Linked DNA regions of Homo sapiens. The protein of the gene in region 4 interacts with the protein of the main gene of each other region in a pairwise test. Each region holds a gene or a part of one and is shown on either strand. Other genes may lie near its edges.

The links. Proteins that work in one complex are often made in the same cells at the same time.
Region 1: the proteins of ARNT2 (region 4) and SH3GL2 interact in a two-hybrid assay, tested with the Homo sapiens proteins (one large-scale study listed by BioGRID and IntAct).
Region 2: the proteins of ARNT2 (region 4) and ZNF341 interact in a two-hybrid assay, tested with the Homo sapiens proteins (one large-scale study listed by BioGRID and IntAct).
Region 3: the proteins of ARNT2 (region 4) and PSMB1 interact in binary tests that used the Homo sapiens proteins (3 or more experiments, as listed by UniProt).

The regions. Positions count from the first base shown.
Region 1 is NC_000009.12:17,760,118-17,764,917, forward strand, and holds part of SH3GL2 (endophilin-A1), read left to right. Parts: intron 1-1,319; coding exon 1,320-1,392; intron 1,393-4,800. UniProt on the Homo sapiens protein: Implicated in synaptic vesicle endocytosis. May recruit other proteins to membranes with high curvature. Required for BDNF-dependent dendrite outgrowth.
Region 2 is NC_000020.11:33,752,048-33,756,847, forward strand, and holds part of ZNF341 (zinc finger protein 341), read left to right. Parts: intron 1-1,124; coding exon 1,125-1,376; intron 1,377-4,800. UniProt on the Homo sapiens protein: Transcriptional activator of STAT3 involved in the regulation of immune homeostasis. Also able to activate STAT1 transcription.
Region 3 is NC_000006.12:170,542,456-170,547,255, forward strand, and holds part of PSMB1 (proteasome subunit beta type-1), read right to left. Parts: intron 3,730-4,800; coding exon 3,648-3,729; intron 1,276-3,647; coding exon 1,146-1,275; intron 1-1,145. UniProt on the Homo sapiens protein: Non-catalytic component of the 20S core proteasome complex involved in the proteolytic degradation of most intracellular proteins. This complex plays numerous essential roles within the cell by associating with different regulatory particles.
Region 4 is NC_000015.10:80,575,300-80,580,027, reverse strand, and holds part of ARNT2 (aryl hydrocarbon receptor nuclear translocator 2), read right to left. Parts: intron 3,163-4,728; coding exon 3,063-3,162; intron 1-3,062. UniProt on the Homo sapiens protein: Transcription factor that plays a role in the development of the hypothalamo-pituitary axis, postnatal brain growth, and visual and renal function. Specifically recognizes the xenobiotic response element (XRE).

The DNA of each region.
Region 1 (4,800 bases), on a different chromosome or scaffold from region 4:
ACACTCAATCTTAAAGATCTTTGAAATTTGAATCAATCAAAAGGATATTTATACAAGATTTATATGTAGACAGGCACATTTGAAATTGCATCCTTCTAAAGATAATTTTATATCATTATAACTTCACAAGAAAAAATTTGTTTTCCTCTGTTGATCCTAGTAATAGCAAACACACACAGTAATATGACTGCCATGGAATGAAAAATTATTAAGTATTGAAAAACTGAACTGAAAGATAAAATCTTTTAATGTGTGGATTATGGAAAAGGAGGAGGCTTACTTTATGCAAGGCTGATATTATATACCGGTATATATTATATACCGGTATATATTGGTATATACTGATATTATACTGGTATATACTGATATTATATACTGGTATATATTATATACCACTAGGTACAGCAGGTTATGGAAAAGTTTCTCATAGTTGAAGGGGGAGCCTTTTAACAAACAGAAAATTTCTCCAGTGGACTTAATTGATACCTAAATTTCTACATTAAAATTTAATCACTTTCATTTATACCTATGTCATATATTACATGTACATACCTTGAATAGGAGGATGCATTTATTCTCATTAGTCATTTACCATGTAGGGCGAATAGGAGGCCCACAGATGCTGATAAGAAAAGGATTTCTTGGAGAAAGACAGAGAGCACTGCAGTGAGCACCTTCCATGACCTCTTTCAAGTGGGGAGAGGGGCCTGACAAAGAGAACACGGTGAGATGCTGAAGGCAAACACTGACCATTCCAAATTTAGAAATTTAGAGGATAGAACAAATTTGGAGGATAGACTCTAGCATCAAGATTTTTGTTTAGCATTAACCAAAAGTTCAAGGACAGACTAGAAGTCTTTGCTCAAGATTTTATATTTTTAGGATGTTCTTAGAAGTTAAATAAAAAGCTCCCCACTTCTTGAATAAGCAGAGTTGATGCTGCATGATTCTTTCTTGAGGGCAGCAAAATCTGCCTCCATGCCTGACCCACTGTAGGCATCCAATAAATGCCTCTGGGACAAAATATGTTTCATTTTATTCACCTTATTTTCACCAGAAGGTAATGAATTATATTTTGAAACAAATTTTAGGAAACTACAAGCTTCTTCTTTGGATAAACGGGCTTTCCACATCTTGGCAGACCACTGCTGAGTACAGTGTCAGCATGACTTCCAGCCGCGTCTCAGCCTCCCTCACCTACTGCGGGACTTGTCCGGGGCTCTGTTGCATACCCCGCCATTGTATACAGACTCAACCAAAAACCGGTATTCTAAAGCTCATCATTTTTGTCATTTAGAGCACTTATTTTCTCATTTCAGAAAGTGGATGTCACCAGCAGGGCTGTGATGGAAATAATGACTAAAACAATTGAATACCTTCAACCCAATCCAGGTAAGGCATCATCTTATATGTTTAAAGGATCCCTCGAGGTAACTTTTAGTTTCTCTTTGATAGACATTTTAAGTTTGGTGTGTTTCTTCTTTTGGTGTTGCTTCCTCGGTCCACTTTTCTGAGAGGTTAGCGACTTCATGGATAGCACATTTTAACTGGGGAGAAGGGCTTTTTAAAGCTCACATTGAAGTAACTGGAAGATCTGTGGTATTTTATCTGACTGTGGTATATTTAACAAATAATGTATGCAAACAGTTCAGGTGACACATAATATCAGAGTAGCTATAAACTGTTATCAGTTTGAACTTTCAAGAGATGGTAAGAAGGAAAATTAGGATAGTTTAAGGTAAGATATAATGATTCCCAGAAGATGTGAAAAAGTAGGGAGGTGAATCGTTTTCATGAAACACAGAGGGTTTCTTCATAGGGCATCACCAAAGTCTTCAGAGCGTTGATCTTGATTCTGATTCTTCTCCAAGCACATCACAGATCAGCATTGGTTCCTGCTAACTTGTTATACTCTAAGAAAAAGAAGTGGTAATAGAGATAACGGAGCTATATGTTGATAAGAGGACCAGGCAGAGTTGGGGCAGTTTCGGTAGGCACTAGGTATAGCAAAGCAAAGCAAAGCAAAGCAGCCTACCTGATAGACCTCCTCATTACCATTCCTGTGTGTCAGTTTCTAACCACAGGGCACGGAAACGGGAAGTGAGGCTGGTTGTATTTAAGTGAGATGTGTGAATATTTGGAATACCCCTTAATCTTGAGGCTAGTTTCTTTGCAAGTTTCAGGTTGGGGTTCCGTGTATTTTATGGTCCTAGAGAGGATGGTGCAGACAACTGCTTCAGCCCCAATGAGTTTGGATACTGAGCAATAGTGGACAAGTGATCAAAAAAAAAAAAAAAAGGGGGCGGGTGTGGGCTGAGAGGAAGCAGGTGTGTGCTGTACTAAGTGCTGGCTCCTTTTCTATGCCCCCTGCTGCTGGCTGCAGCTTCCTTCCATCCTTATTCACCTATGACCAGCCCAGCTGCTATTCTGAGGATGAGCAGACTATGTAGGAATAACTTTCTGGATATTTGTTGCTGTTGTTTTTGTTCATAAAACACATTAGAAATGAGCTTATGTGAGGGAGGAAAATATGGAAGAAAATGTGATAAGCTATAGGAACCAGGAATTTAACTGACAGTGGTCTAGATACATTTTCAAATGCTTAGCAAATTTGTCAAAGCACTGCAAAAATCAGGTTTCTTATTTTTACCCAGAACCTTCTTGGTAACCACTGTTTTTCACAGAGATGCAAAGATCTCTTGGATGCACATTTATTCCTTACTGTTTAAACCACTGTCATAGGTCAAGTTCTGAAAGAGAACTGCTCGCCCTGCTTCCCCGCAAGAAATCATTATATAGGGGCAAGAAGTTTTGGTCTTTATCTTTGCCTAGAACCTTGAAGTACTCCATGATTTCCTGGGATTTTCACGAGTTGTACTTGTAACTCATGGTTGTAGGGCTAAGAGAAAGGCAGTGGGAGGAGGAATATAGTATTTATTGAGCACTGATGCATTTTCAGTGCAGTGCTAGGTATATGAGGCATTGTCTCATCTTTAAAAGTAACCATTTTTCTCCATATAAAGTAAAAACAGTTGAAGAATTTCTAGTATGAAAATAGACTAAAAATTCATTGTAACACAAATTATCAGTGGGAGCTCATCAGTTTTCCTGAGTATAATGGAACTGTGCTCTGTTGTAGGTAGGTGTGGTGGGTTGCATTGTGTGTCTCCCCAAATTCAGGTCCATCCAGAACTAAACTTATAAGGAATGTGACCTTATGTGGAAATAATCCTTGCAGATGTAAGTAGTGATGTAGGATCTTGAGATGAACTCTTCCTAGATTTAGGGTGGCCCCTAGAACCAGTGATGGGTGTCCTTATGAGAAGAGGAGAGGACACAGAGAAACACAGGAAAGAAGGCCACGTGAAGAATGAGAAGAGGTTGAAGTTACACGTCACGAGCAAAGGAATGCCAGGAGCCACCACCACAAGCTGGAAGACATGAGGAAGGATTCTCTCAGAGCCTCCAGAGGGAACCAACTTTGCCGACACCTTGATTTCAGACTTCCGGTATGCTGAACTGTGAGGGAATCAATTCTTTTCTTTGAGGCTGCCCAGTTTGTGGTCATTTGAAATGACAGCTCTAGAAAACTAATCCAGTACGCTAGCCTCATTTTATTCAGGAAAAAACAAGGGTCAGAGAATTTAAGGAACTTTCCCATTCATACACCTAGGAAGGGATGAAGACAAGATTGGAACTCAGGTCTGACTACCTCCTAAGTCTCTGCACTTCACGTTGCACGATCCTGCCTCTGAGAAGGGTAGGCTCCATTTCATTTAGGTGTGAAGGGTCCTTCCCTTTCAGAGAGTACCAGAGAAATTCAGAAAGGAAATTGTGGGATTAAGGCTTATTTTTATTTTAATAAAAAACATCAAAGGAGGAGGTAATTGAGAAGATCTGAATGTTTAGAAATGACATTTTTAATACAATATTGCATGTGCTAATTGGCTGCCAATATAATGGTTTTGTGACTATTTGAGAGTTGAATGGACATCTGCCACTAAGAACAATGAAGGCCATTACAGGCAATTCGAGGTTGGTTTCAGAAAAACAGTTATGTATGGGCAGGCCACATACATATATGAGTAAGTACTACCCAGAAGAGTCCAGAACAAAACGAAAATTTTGTGTAATCATTCCACAGAATTTAAACAACCTGCATTTAATTGTTTACAACAGGTACAATTTCATCCCTCCACCAGCTTCTTGCCCTGAGAGTAGACACTGGCCATAGAGCCCAGACCAGGTAACTGGTAAAGTTGAGAGTTAGGCAGACACCCAGAGAGACAGTCCTTGGGCACAGGAGAGCACAAAGAATGTTCCCAAACTCGTGCAGTTTGCTAAATACTTTGCCCACTCAGCCTTTCAGTGAACCCTAGAGCTGGGCCAACCAGTGTGGATACTGAATGCTGGTTCTGAATAAGCAAGATATGGCCTGGGTTAGGACAGGGCCTGATGCCAAGTAACACATTTACATGGACAGGCCAGGGGAATCAGTAGGATTTGATGCTTCGAGGGTACTTTGGGAGTACATCTGTATTAGATTACTGCTCCCGGGTGCTTGCTGGCTTTCACATCTTGGGTACATGGACAGGCCAGGGGAATCAGTAGGATTTGATGCTTCGAGGGTACTTTGGGAGTACATCTGTATTAGATTACTGCTCCCGGGTGCTTGCTGGCTTTCACATCTTGGGTACATGGACAGGCCAGGGCAATCAGTAAGATTTGATGCTTCAAGGGTACTTTGGGAGTACATCTGTATTAGATTACTGCTCCCGGGTGCTTGCTGGCTTTCACGTC
Region 2 (4,800 bases), on a different chromosome or scaffold from region 4:
AAGGAGATGTCCCACAAACCAGATTCTCAGATCCCAGTCACGAGCTAGTGCTGCAAGCAAGCCCCCCCCCCTTTTTTTTTAATTTTATAACTTTATTTGAGGTATTTGATGATCAGCGATTAGTTCTCATCCACATTGACTGTCTGTAGATTTTTGAAAGTGGTAACAGGTACATAGGTAACCAAAGTATAGAGCTTATTTGGTGGATCTTCATCCTCATAACATTTTCTGGACAACCGCACACGGATGCAGTATGGGACATTCTTTATTCCTTTGTCTCAGACAGCTTTGTTGAGGCTGGTATCAATGCACACATCTGGAGTTCCCATCTCCTTCATGGCAAGTTTCCGAATCTCTTTGAGTGCCTGAGGAGCACGCTTCTTGAAGCCACTCCATGGATGCACTTGTGAATGTTGATGGTGTATTCTCAGGTCACCACCTCATTGATGGCCGAATGACCCTTTTTCTTCTCGCCACCCTTCTTTCTGGGAGCCATTCTGCTGGGTCCAAGATGGAAAGGGAAGCCCTTCTTAAGATAGCAACATTAGGCTGCTATATTAACTCTTTTCTGCATGAATGAGGTCATTTTTGCCTATTTTCTTTTCTTTTTTTTTTTTTTTTTTGAGATGGAGTCTTGCTCTGTCACCCAGGCTAAAGTGTGGTGGTGCAATCTCCACTCACTGCCAGCTCCGTCTCCCAGGTTCACACCATTCTCCTGCCTCAGCCTCCCGATAGCTGGGACTACAGGCGCCCGCCACCACGCCCGGCTAATTTTTTGTATTTTTAGTAGAGACAGGGTTTCACCATTAGCCAAGGTTGTCTCGATCTCCTGACCTCGTGATCCGCCCGCCTCAGCTCCCAAAGTGTTGGGATTACAGGCGTGAGCCACTGCGCCCGGCCATTTTTGCCTACTTTCATAGGGAAAAGGGATAGCAGCACCAAGCTGAGGCTTCCTTCGAATTCTCCCATGACTTTGTTTCCCCAACCTCTCTTAGCCCCTCTCCTGAGCTGTCTGGTAAGTAGCTGTTTTTCCACCTGGCTGGCTAAAGCAAATGTCCTTCCTTCCTGATAAATAAGACAACTGGTATCAAGAGGCTATAACACTTTTTCTTTTCTGATTTCAGAGCAGCCTGAACATGCATTCCGTGCCCAGCTACCTCACCCAGCCTCCACCTCCTCCTCCACCTCCTCCACCACTGCCCCCACCGCCACCACCTCAGCCTCCACCACCTCCACCCCAGAGCCTGGGCCCCCCTGGGCGTCCCAACCCTGGTGGGAACGGTGTGGTGGAGGTGTACAGTGCTGCTGCGCCCCTGGCTGGGAGTGGAACGGTGGAGATCCAGGCACTGGGGATGCAGCCCTACCCACCCCTAGAGGTGAGCAGAGGGGGCAGGGTGGAAGAGGACACTGGTCATGGACATCATGGCCAACCCGGACCCATCCTGAGCACCAGCTGTGTGCCAGACACTGTGCTGGGGATACCATGAAAACCAGACCCGGTCCTGGCCTTCATGGGGTGTACCACATCACAGGGGAGAAGGACTTTAATCAAAGCATCACACCCACAGATGTAAGATGCAAGCCATGAGAAGGTGGAATGGAGTACAGGTTGTAGCAGAAATATAAGCTGCCTGCAGGTAATGCTCAGAACAGTCAGAGAATGCCTACCTTTTCAGGCAAAAAAAAGAAAAAAGATTCAAAAAAATTATCTGCCTGAGTGTCTCTTACAGTTTTTAATAAGCTAGGTGTATCAGTTAGCTATTGCTGGGTAAGAAATATCCATCAGGCATCAGTGGCATATACCAAAAGTGTTTATTATTCACGTGTTTACAGTGGTCAGCTAGACAACTGCGGATCTTGGCTGGGCTCACTCATATGTCTGAACGTTGGCTGGCTGTCAGCTGCTCTAGGATGGCCTGGGCTGGGACAAGTGGGGTGACTCAGCTCTGTTCTGCGTGACTCTCATCCTCCACTAGGTTCTCATGGCCATGGTGGAGGTGCAAAAATGCAGACAGAAATGCCCAAGGCCTTTTGAGGTTTAGGCTTGTAAGTAACACAGAATCACTTCTATTGGCCAAAGCAGATCACAAGTCCAGCTTAGATAGCGCAGGTAGGGAAATAGATGCCACCTCTTGATGGGAGGAACTGCAGAGTCACACTGCAAAGGCTTGGGTACAGGGAGGGGCAAAGAATTGGTGCCATAATACAATCAATGTACCATACTAATTCCCTGCCAATGAGCTCTAAGTTATAGGCCATCTACTTGAAATGCACTGAGTTCATAGAACCTTCCAAGACACCAGTGCTAGAGGGTATGGTTATGACAGAAACAACCCACCTGCACTAGAAATCACACTAACTCAGACTCACCATAGAATCCAGCCACAGACATCCCCTGTCAGGTAGTCTCTTTATGTAAAGAGAGCCCAGACCAGTGGGAAGATCCCACCACGAGGCATTCACGTGATGTTCTGAGGGGCTGCGAGGGGATTTGCCCTACCCTGGGAGAATAGAACAAGCTTCTCTAGGGAATTTATTGCATTGAGAAAAAGTTAAGTTAGTGGGATGCTGAGATAATGCTGGTGGCTTGTGGTAGTCAGAGGGGACCAGCCCAGAGAGGACCAGCACAGAAGGAGCTGCTGCTGTTGATTTTCCATGTAGATGAGGGTATTTGAGGGCAGGGTCTGAGTCTTACTAGACTTTGCATCCTTAGCACCTAGCAGAGCACTCCTAGAGTAGATATCTTACATTGGACTGTCTGACCTCAGTCTGCGCTCCTCTAAAATGGGAACTCTCCTGAAAAGCTGTTGAGGATAATAAGAGCCTATGCCAGTGGCAGTCACATTAATTACTCAGTAATGCCTTGAGTGATGGCTGAATTTATTCACGTGACAAGTATTTATTTATTTATTTGAGACAGAGTCTCACTCTATCGCCCAGGTTGGAGTGCAGTGGTGTGATCTCGGCTCACTGCAACCTCCACCTCTCAGGTTCAAGCGATTCTCGTGCCTCAGCCTCCCAAGTAGCTGGTATTACAGGTATGAGCTACCACGCCCAACTAATTTTTTTTGTATTTTTAGTAGAAACGGGTTTCACCATGATGGCCAGGCTGGTCTCGAACTCCTGGCCTCAGGTGATCTGCCTGCCTTGGCCTCCCAAAGTGCTGGGATTACAGGCATGAGCCACCACACCCGTCCCAACAAGTATTTATTGAGTGCTGTATTGGTCAGGGTTTGGTCAGGAAAATAGAAACCAGGCAAGGTATTTCTGCAGAGGGATGTTTTTTCTTTTCTAAATTAGAGATAGGGGTCTCACTTTAGCCCAGGTTGGTCTCCATCTCCTGGCCTCAAGTGATCCTCTCACCTCAGCCTCCCAGAGTGCTGGGATTACAGGCATGAGCCACCATACCCGGCCAGATTTTATAATTTTTTTTGTACCTTTTTTTCAGCTTTGTCTGATTTTATTACTCCAACTGTAGCTTTCTATTTATTTATATTTGTCTGAAATATTTTTTCAACTTTGGGCTTTTTGCTGAGTTGAATTCTTTTTTTTTTTTTTTTTTTGAGACTGAGTCTTGCTCTGTCACCCAGGCTGGAGTGCAATGGCATGATCACGGCTCACCACAGTCTCGATCTCCCAGGCTCAGATGATTCTCCCACCTCAGCCTCCTGAGTAACTGGGACTACAGGCATGCACCACCATGCCCATCTAATTTTTTTAATGTTTTGTGGAGATGAGATCTCCCTATGTTGCCCAGGCTAGTCTCAAACTCTTGTGCTCAAGTGATCCTCCTTCCTCGGCCTGCCAAAGTGCTGGAATTACAGGCATGAGCCATCGTGCCTGGCCAGAGATTTTGGATAGGACACCTCAGGAAGACCAATGGATGATGAATAGGCCAGGCACAGGGGCTCACGCCTGTAATCCCTGCACTTTGGGAGCCCGAGGTGGGTGGATCACTTAAGCTCAGGAGTTTGAGTCCAGCTTGGGCAACATGGTGAAATCTTGTCTCTACAAATTACACAAAAATTATCTGGGCATGGTGGTGTGTGCCTGTTATCCCAGCTATTTGGTGGGGTGAGGCGGGAGGGTTGCTTGAGCCTGGGAGGTCAAGGCTGCAGTGAGCCGAGATCACATCATTGCATTCCAGCCTGGACAATAGAGCAAGAAAAATCTGAATGCCTCAGAATTCATTTGGTAATTTCTCGTGGCTTCAGTTCTCAGTGAAGAGAAGCCTGCTACTCTGGCATTGGGTAGTGTCAGTCAGGAAGTGGAGCAGCTGGGGGAGCACAGACCCCTCTGACTTCCTGGTTCTCTCTCTCTCTTTTTTTTTTTTTTTTGAGACAGAGTCTCACTCCATCGCCCAGGCTGGAGTGCAGTGGCGCGATCTCGGCCCACTGCAACCTCCGCCTCCCAGGCTCAAGTGATTCTCCTGCCTTAGCCTCCTGAGTAGCTGGGATTACAGGCACACACCACCATGCCTGACTTAATTTTTGTATTTTTAGTAGAGATGGGGTTTCACCATGTTGGCCAGGCTGGTCTCAAACTCCTGACCTTAGGTGATCTGCCCACCTTGGTCTCCCAAAGTGCTGGGATTACAGGTGTGAGCCACCAGGCTCAGCCACCTAGTTCTCTTAATGCTAGCAAAGTACCACTGATAAGAATAGACAGGGCAAATAATAACAGCTAATGTGTATTGCATGCTCACTCTATGCCAGTCACTGTTCTAAGCCCTTTATATGTTGCTTCATTTAATCTTCACAGTAACCGCATGAGAGGGGTACTATGATGAGTCCCATTTTA
Region 3 (4,800 bases), on a different chromosome or scaffold from region 4:
CTCTGACCCAAGCCAAGGCCTGCCTTGAACATTCCCAGGCGCTGACAATGTTGTTTAGGCTATTGCTTGAAACACTGAGAAATTACCCCTGTTGCTAAACACACAGAAACTATCCCTGGCCCTGAACCAAATTCCTTCAACACTCAAATCAACTCCCTCACCTTGGACACATCTTTTCCTGCTGTCTGCTGAGAGGACTGCTGCAGCACTAAATGCTTTTGACTGATTACCCTGAGATTTAGTGTTCTGGAACCCCAACTAGGTTCGGGGCAGTCCCTTACAGGAATTCCTCTGCCCCTACTTTTAGGGCAACTTCAGCCACAGGTTCAGCCAGAAGGAACACAGAAGATGGGCTTACTCCAATGATATCCTCATCTAGACACTTCTGTAACTTCTTATCTCAATGGACTACTCTAAATGACACAGATGGACTACTTATCCATCTGTGTCAATGGACTACTCTAAGTGACAAAGATCTGTCCTGGGACACTGTACTTGTATTTGATTTTTAGATGCAACCAAAAGCCAATCCAAATGAGAACATTTGGATTGCAAATGAGAACAAATGGATTGGAACATTTGGATGGAAAACATTGGTGCCCATGTGGCGTAATGCAGCTCTGGAACAAAAATGGGATGGAATATTAAGTAACAAGACTTAATATTCTCAGGGAATCCTGGTCTGACTCTGACAAAATCAGAGAGGTGTTTCAAAAAGTTCTGAAAACACTGGAGTAGATGCTTATTATTAATTACCCCAAATGACTTCTAGAACCGTTAAAGAACTTTTTTGAAGTGTATTTGTTAATAAAAAAATTTTCAATACTCAGAATCACATTTAGGTCAAGCTTTCTAGGTCCGATTTCTTTCTATAAGATAAAAATGCCTAATTATTTACTACTAACTCATGCAAGTTCCTGAGAAAATAGCAAAATAACTGGCTGCTCAACATTCACTATTAGAGCTTCAATGTGCCTTTGGAGGTCATACATTAGCTTCAGTTTCTTCATCACTTTCATTATCAGAAATGAAATGAGAATTGTGTCAGATGGTATTTATGGTTCTTTTCAACTCTAGATGGATACACACATCTAGGGAATAATAACTCCTCCCCCCCACCATTTTCCAGAAAGAAGGAATTCTACCTTCTTCATCAAGTCCACCGATGATGTTGTAAACATAGTATGGAAAGAAGCGCCTTGAATACAGGATTGTAGACAGCATTGCAGCAATTGCCCCCGTAGTCATGGCCTTATTATTGGAATGCTTATACATCTGCAATTATTGATAAAAGTCACAGGCATGTAGAGGCAGAGGCCATTATAGACTAGAACAATCAACAGTATAAAGTGAATAAATAAATGCATACCACAGTGGAAGGGGAAAGCATGCCTATTTCCTTCATGATCAACCAACACAGTATTACTAACATAAAATTTTAAGGGAAGGAATGCCAAGTTTGCCCTCAGCTCTCTGGTTTAGACTCTATTTTCCATACCACCCTTATCTCAGGTACTGCTAATCCAAGAGCTAATGTGTATGAAAGGGCACATGAAGTGGCCTAAGGAAGATGGGTTTAAATCCATCTCTCTCCCTCACTCTGCATATAGACCAGGGGTCAACAAACTACCCCTGTAGTTTGGCTCAGGGGCCAAATCCAGCCTACTCCCTATTGCTATGAATATTGTCCGTGGCTGCTTTTTCACTACAGAAGCAGATCAAATGAGGCCCATAAAGCTGTAAATATTTACTATCTGGTCCTTTACAGAAAAATTACGGCAATCCCTGATCAAACCTAGATGTAAGTCCCTCTCTTTGTGGAGCAGATCTCTGTGAGAACAGAAGACACAGGGCAGCACCCTTACTCTGCATGATTTTAATACACAGCAGTGGTCGTGATCCTTAAAACATCTACAGTAGAGAACACAAGCATCCAAAACAGGGTCTTAGCATGACAATACAGTGACTGCAAATCCTAGCTTTACTATACCTTTGCGAGCCCTACATTACCCACTGGTAGAGAAACTTCACAAAAATTATAAACATAAAATGAATTCAAGATCACCAATTTTTGTTAACCACATAGCAAACATCTCTAATGAGAAACTTAATGGCCAGGCATAGTGGCTCACACCTGTAATCCCAACTGAGGCGGGAGAATGTTTGAGCCCAGGAGATGAAGGCTACAGTGAGCTACAATGGCGCCACTGTACTCCAGCCTGTGCAACAAAGTGAGACGCTGTCTCTAAATAAATAGACAGATAGATATCTAACTAGCACCGTAAAATTAAATAATGACAGTCAAAACACTGAAAAATGATTAGAAATGAACTACAAGTAACAGGTAAGTTTTTTATAGAGGAATGCCTTTCCAAGATAAAAACTATAAAAAATTATTCATAGGCCGGGCACAGTGGCTCACTGCTGGCCTGTAATCCCAGCACTTTGGGAGGCCGAGATGGGTGGATCACCTGAAGTCAGGGGTTCGAGACCAGCCTGGCCAACATGGTGAAACCCCGTCTCTACTAAAATACAAAAATTAGACAGGGGTGGTGACAGGTGCCTGTAATCTCAGCTACTCGGGAGGCTGTGGCAGGATAATCACTTGAACCCAGGAGGCAGAGGTTGCAGTGAGCCAAGATCATGCCATTGCACTCCAGCCTGGGCAACAAGAGTGAAACTCTGTCTCAAAAAAAAAAAAAAAAATTTCATTCCATTTCATTTCGAAACCAAGCACCAACATTTATTTACTTCACCACCTAATAAAGTATGAGAGAAAAACTTCAGGAAGGGGTGTGTATTATGTAGAATTCACCATTCCTTGTTTTATTAACAATATCATGTTTACTTTTGTCTTCTAACTCCCATTTATAAAATAAGCATTAGGAATTATCATATAAATATGCCAATAAATGTAAGTCACTATGGCTTTCAATGTAAGTTTCTAAAAAAGCATTAACAATTGATAAATACTGAGTGAAATCCTTTCTACACATTCAAAAAGCATGTGTCAGTTAAATAAATATACTATATACTCCAGTAACCACTCATAAGTGTAAATAATCTCAAGTGTTATTCATGAATAGGCAAAACAGAATGTGATCACCCCTGACTTCTGGCAGCTGGCTATCAACTGAAGCTGGTCAGGTGACAGACGTTAATGGTGCATGTTGTGCCTCCCATCCAAGCTCCCAGCTTATTCATTCTTTCGTATTTCTACTCATGCATCCTGCCAACTAAGAGCACAGCACTGTAAAGAGGAAAAGCTTGTCAACTGATGGTGATGCAAACCAAGCTCCTGTGTCAAATCTTTCCTGGGCTCTCTCCTGCCACAGAAATTGATTTGCTTTGTTTTTGAGGGAAGAGTATCTTCAGAAGAAGAACTCCTCCCAGGCTCCTTCTAAAAGGGTAGAGAACCCTTCATATGATACAAGACTTTAACAAATGGAATGTGCTGCTGTTTCACATTATGCTACTTTAATGACCCTGCATTAATGATATCATTTCATTTCTAGCATACATTTGTAATTCATCTACTAACCTAGTGACTCTCTAGCTATCTGACCAACAGTCATGCTGTAGGCTTAAAAGAATTTAATGAATTACTATTAATTTAAAATAGTGTAGAAATGTACAAAAGCATCTACCTTTAGTCTTGCTTCAATAATCTTTGTCAGCGTAAGACAGTCTCCATGAAAACCGCTGCATCCAATGACTGTTTTGTCTGTTCTGTAAAAAGCACATTTCAGAAAACTGAGCTGGTTAGATAGTAGAGCAAAACATATCTTCGGCAATTTTAAATTTAAAATTCTGATTCCCACTATTCCCTAAATGGTAATGGGACAAACAGTCACCCTTCTGGGGAGGAGGGGTCTGTATTCCATCTTACCCCTTATTCCAGATGAATTACAGGTGGATCAAAGACTTTAAAAATGCGACTATGAATGGACTAAATAAATCATGGGTGAATTTTTTTTACTATCTTGGGCTGAGGAAGATACGTAGGTAGGTTAATTGACTGATTTTTGAGACGGAGTTTCGCTCTTGTCACCCAGGCTGGAATGCAGTGGCGCAATCTTGGCTCACTGCAACTTCCGCCTCCTGGGTTCAAGCAATTCCCCTGCCTCAGCCTCCCAAGTATCTGGGATTACAGGCACCCGCCACCACACCCAGCTGATTTTTGTATTTTTAGTACAGATGGGGTTTCACCATGTTGGCCAGGCTGGTCTCAAACTCCTGACCTCAGGTAATCCACCTGCCTTGGCCTCCAAAGTGCTGGGATTACAGGTGTGAACCACTGCACCCAGCCTCGTGAAGGTAGATTTAAACAACACAATCCAAGGGCCACACAGAAAAATTTCATAAATTTGACTACATAAAATTCTACAGGGAAATTTAAGAATAGCTTTTTAAAACCCTAAGAAAATATATTAGTAGCATCTACCCCCAAAGTCTAATTTTAATTCTATAAAAATTCTTACAAATAAGGAAAGCAATAACATAAAGGAAAGATGGGTAACTTCTATGAACAGACAAGTCACAGAAAAAAGAGACATTAAGTCACCATAAACATAAGAGCCTCTATGTTACTCAGAAATCCAAATCTCAAAAAGAGACTATTTCAACCAATTATACTGGCTAAAAATGCCTAACTAACTAAATGCTGGTGAGGTTGTGGAAACAGTATAAACTGATTAACCTGTTAGATGGGCAATTTGGTGGTATTTATTAAAAATTTAAATACACACCACTCTCACCAATTCTATTGCTAGAAATCCATCTTGTTAATATACTTATCCA
Region 4 (4,728 bases):
CTTTTGTGCTCTGGTTAATTTGTTCCTTTGGGGCACCTATGAGGCTTAAGGATTCAGGAAATAGGTTGCAGGCTGTCAGTTTTAAACGGAAAGAAAAGCTTCTCAATGAAAACCTGCTGGATGGGGCCTAGTCCTGCTACCCAGAGTTTACCCCTCCCACCTTCAGTTCACCTTCGACTTAACTCAGTTTGTCTTTATTAGGCCCCTGCTGTGTGCCGTGCTCTCTGCATGGCCTTTGCAGGCTAAATCTCTGACCCTGCTTAGCTCCTCGGCAGGCACTGTCTGTACCACCAGGCGCTTCTTCCAGGAGATTTTCCAGGCTATGTCGATTACATGAGAAGCTCATCAAAGACTAAAAGGCTGGGGGCAGACTTTTACTTTGTTTCAGGCCCCTCCTCCTGCCTCCCTGGGACTAGCTCAGCATGCAGGGCAGTGCGCTGGGTGCCCATGAATCAGTCAAGTAGGGCAGAATGGGGCTCATCACAGAAGGCTTTGGTAGATTTTCAGCTCCGTGTTAAAAAAAAGGCAAGCCAGAGATCAGCAGAGATTGGGTAAAATTTTACTATTGTATTCTAATAAGTTTCCTATGCTATCTGATCCCTTTTAAAATAGGGAGAAACCAAGAATGTCAGAGACATTCTTGAGCTGATCATTGTAAAACAAGTTCAGTGGCTTATATAAAGGGGACATCATTTCTGTCTTCATACAATCAATTCCTCATTTAACATAAGGGCTCCTTTCCCATTCTCCTTCCTGATGAAAGTATTGCTTCAGAGGACATTTTCTGGTCACTATTGTCTAGTAGGACCCTCTCCACAGCCCCCAGCCCTTGGTGTCCTCCCCAAAACACTGACTGATGAGGGCCGCTACAGCGTAGACGGTCCTAGGAAAGGCGCCTTGGCAGAAAGGGATGGGCTTCTTGGGGCAAAGCGCCAGCCCTTGTGCACAGCCCTCCCTGGGGGCCTCTGGGCTACAGCTGCCTGCCTTAGTGTGGACAGGCAGGGGCCAAAACTGGCGGGACCAGAGAGGGAGGACTGTGGGTGAGGATGCACTTCAGGTGCCAGCAACACCATTCTGCAAGCGGCCCAGGATTCCCTATGGCTGTATTGGGCCCCAGAGTCCTTCATCCCACAGCCTACCCCATCCCAAGCCAGCTCAGATCCTTCGGATATACAGGAAATTCTGCCCATTCCACAGGCTTTAGCCCTAACAGGCATCCTTTAATTAACTCAGTCATTTATTCATTCATTTTACAGACTAGTACTCAGCAAGTGCCTTTTCTATGCCAGGCTCTGCACAGGTGTTCGGACGTTCCTTGGATTCCTTCCCCACACTGCCAGCTGCCCCAAACCTGCTTTTCCTTCCCCATCACTCATCACTGCCCTGTGCACCCTACATTTTTGTTTCTATGACAACAGCGTTACCCAGGCTCTGCACCTCACGCTGGACTGTCTGCCCTGAGCCCTGTCTGCAGCTTCACTCTTCTCCCAAAGGTCATCAGTGATGGTGTCCTCCTCCTCAGCATGGTCCCCACGGCTGCTGCTGCAGACACAGCTCAGGGCAGACAGTCCAGTGTGAGGTGCAGAGCCTGTGTGAGGCCGTTGTCATAGAACAACGTGGTCATCCTCTGTTTCTCCCATTAGTGAGGCCTCCTCCAACAACACCTCCTCCAAGGCTTCACTCAGCACACCCCTCAGGCCCTTGCACCCCTGCCCTGGTCAGGAGGCAGAACCTGACTTTTGCTTTCAGGCCTAGCTGAAGAGTCAGCCAGACCTTCTCCGGTCATGCCACCTTGGGCTGTCCCCTTGCCTTTGAACTGTCCCCTCCTTACCTCCTGCTGCTGTGCTCTCCCTGATCCCCTTTGTCCAGAGTGGAGGACAAGCAGCAAGTGTCACAAGGACCCCATGAACATGAGCACCCAGGCAGGGCTGGCACAGGGCTTGGCATCAACGGAGATCGGTCAGTGCGTGCTGAGTAGCTGAGTAACTCAGCAGCCAAGAGAAGTCTGGAGGGCTTGACTATTGCTCAGCAGAGCAGCGTGACCTGCGGTGATGATGGTTAGGGACTGCTCACAGAGGGCTGCCATCTTGTCTGCTGTCCCCAGACCAGAGGCCCTGCCTGCAGCCAGGGCTCCCCAGAGCCTCAGAGCAGTGTGCAATTCAGCAAGACTCAGCTGCAGGCGTGGCCAGAGCCCCTGCAATGTCTGCTAATCTGTCTCCAGGAGGTCTGTCCTTGAACCAGTGTGGAAGCAAAATCCTCATTCCTTGTGGCTAGGGCAGTCCCGTGGCAGGGGCCTCTCTCTGGGTGGCCGGCCCCACCTGCCCTCCTGGCCTCTGCATCTGGAAGCTCTGCTTAGGGTCTGGCCAACCTCACTGGAGAAGCCCTGCCCTGCTGGGCATGAGGAACTTTAGGGTGTCTGGTGGGCACAGGTGAGTGCCCACATACCCTCCCCAAGAGCTGCCAGCCTCTTCTCTGACCGTTCTTCCCAGTTGATGCTTCTGTCTCCCCAGAAGTCAGTGGAGCCAGGCCTTGCCTCCAGTGATGATGTCAGGGCTTCCTCAGTGACCTACCAGATGCCCTTGATGCTAAGAACCAACCCTTGGGAAGGTTGGACACCCTGCCTGAAGCCTTGAGTGCCCTTTAGGATGAGGCTCAGACGTGGTGGGCTGAGCTGACCAGTCTTCCTTGGATTTGGCTGTAGCCTCTGGGCACCAGATGACAGGATACTTCCTGCTACCTTGTCAGCTGTTCCCAGCTCCAGCTCACTTGGGTCCTGGCTAGAGGGAACTCACTCCCTTCTCCCTGGCAATCACTGCCACAGAACACAGTGGCTGGTGCTGTTCACATCCAAGAAAGAGTAACTGACACCAGGAATCTATGGCAACTCATAGAGGGCTCACAGAGCAGAAGCAGAGCCACCAGAATCCTCAGTTTAGTCCAAGGCCTGAGCGCCAGTAACCACTAACTCATGCTTACAGCCCACAGAGCTGTGCTCTGAGACCCAGGGCTTTCTTGGTGAGGGAGCATCTTCCCACGCCATTGTCCCCCTCGCTGGCACATACCTGAAGGCCTTCCCGGAGTGTCCAGAGGGAAATGGGCTTCCTTGGGAGTAGATCTGCTGGGTTCCTGCTGCAGAGGCTGAGCTCATCATCTTCTTCTCCGCTAGGAAAACCAGAGCAGGAGTCACATGCGAAGGTTCCCTGCTCTGCAGACCACAGAGGAGGCTGCCCCAAGAAGAGGTGCAGGGGTGGGCGTGGGAACGGGAGGACACAAGTCAGGGCAGCCCGCCTGCACGCAATCTTCTCAGCCTTGCCTCTGCCTCCTCATCTCCCCTGGAGCCTCCCTGGCATATGAAGGCACTGGGCTGTTGTTCTTGACCCCTAGGCTAGGCCACAGGCTGCTTGACGGCAAGGCTTTTTTGGAGAGTGGGGAAGATTAAAAGAATTAATGAGGCTAGGCATGGTGGCTTGCACCTGTAATCCCAGCATTTTGGGAGGCTGAGGCAGGCGGATCACTTGAGGTCAGGAGTTCAAAACCAGCCTGGCCAACATGGTGAAACCTTGTCTCCACTAAAAATACAAAAATTAGCCAGGCATGGTGGCAGCCATCTGTAGTTCCAGCTACTCGGGAGGCTGAGGCAGGAGAATCGCTTGAGCCCAGGAGGCGGAGGCTGCAGTGAGCTGAGATCACGCCACTGCACTCCAGCCTGGGCGACAGAGCAAGACTCCACCTCAAAAAAAAAAAATTAATGAGAGTTCTTTCTCAGACATTATTTTATCCAATCTTTCCAACCCTGCGGTGTAGGGATTCCAAGTCCTCTAGTTCTGGGTGAGGAAGCACAGGGTAACAGCGAAGAGGATGGACTCTTATCTCAGCTCTCTGGGTCTGAATCCCATCTCCAAGGTAAGAGGTGCAACCTTGGACTGTTACTTAATCATCCCCTGCCTCAGTTTCCCAACAGAAAGAAGGCGAGAATAAAAGTATCTTCCTCAGAAGGCTGTAGTGGCAATTCAGTGAGTTAACCTAAGTGCTTACGACAGTGCCTGATTAAGGGAGCAAACAGAAACTAAAAGTTTGCTATCGTTTGTTACAGATGAGAAAAGTGAGTTGTAGCTTGTCCAAAGTCATGAGCCGGCGAGGGAGGGCTCAAGGCGTGAATGCAAGCCCAGTGCTCTTCCCACTCTGGAACTCAGCTACCCCTGGCCACCCTCACCCAGCAGGTGCCGCAGCAGGTGATGTCCAGGGAACAGCCCTGGATCTGTGTGCCTTGACGTTCCACTAGGGTTTCTTTGAGAGACTGAGCTCCTCTAACACTGAAAACACTCAGCCCCTGGCCAGCAGGTGCAATAATGCATGATTTTCTGCCACCGCAGAATGGTGAGCAGAGTCGTCTCACCCACAGGCTCACCCACAGCCACACGGCTGAAGAAATGGGCTCAAGACCCAGCTGGCTGTTTAGAATTTTACACGAGAGAGAAGGTGCTTTGTATGGTGGTTTGAGAAACAGGAGTGGGAACACGAGTGGTGGCAGGGTGCTAGACAGCAGGCTCCAATGTGACAGTTCTCCCTCCTTCGGTCATCGAGGGTGCCCAGGGCTCTCTGCAGTGCCCTCCCAGTGCCCCAGAATCTTCAAATTTCTACCCATCTCATTCCTACAATCCCTAACATGTTCACCCGCAATGCGATATTGGAATAAAGGAAATAAAGTTTAGTTACCATACCCTGGGT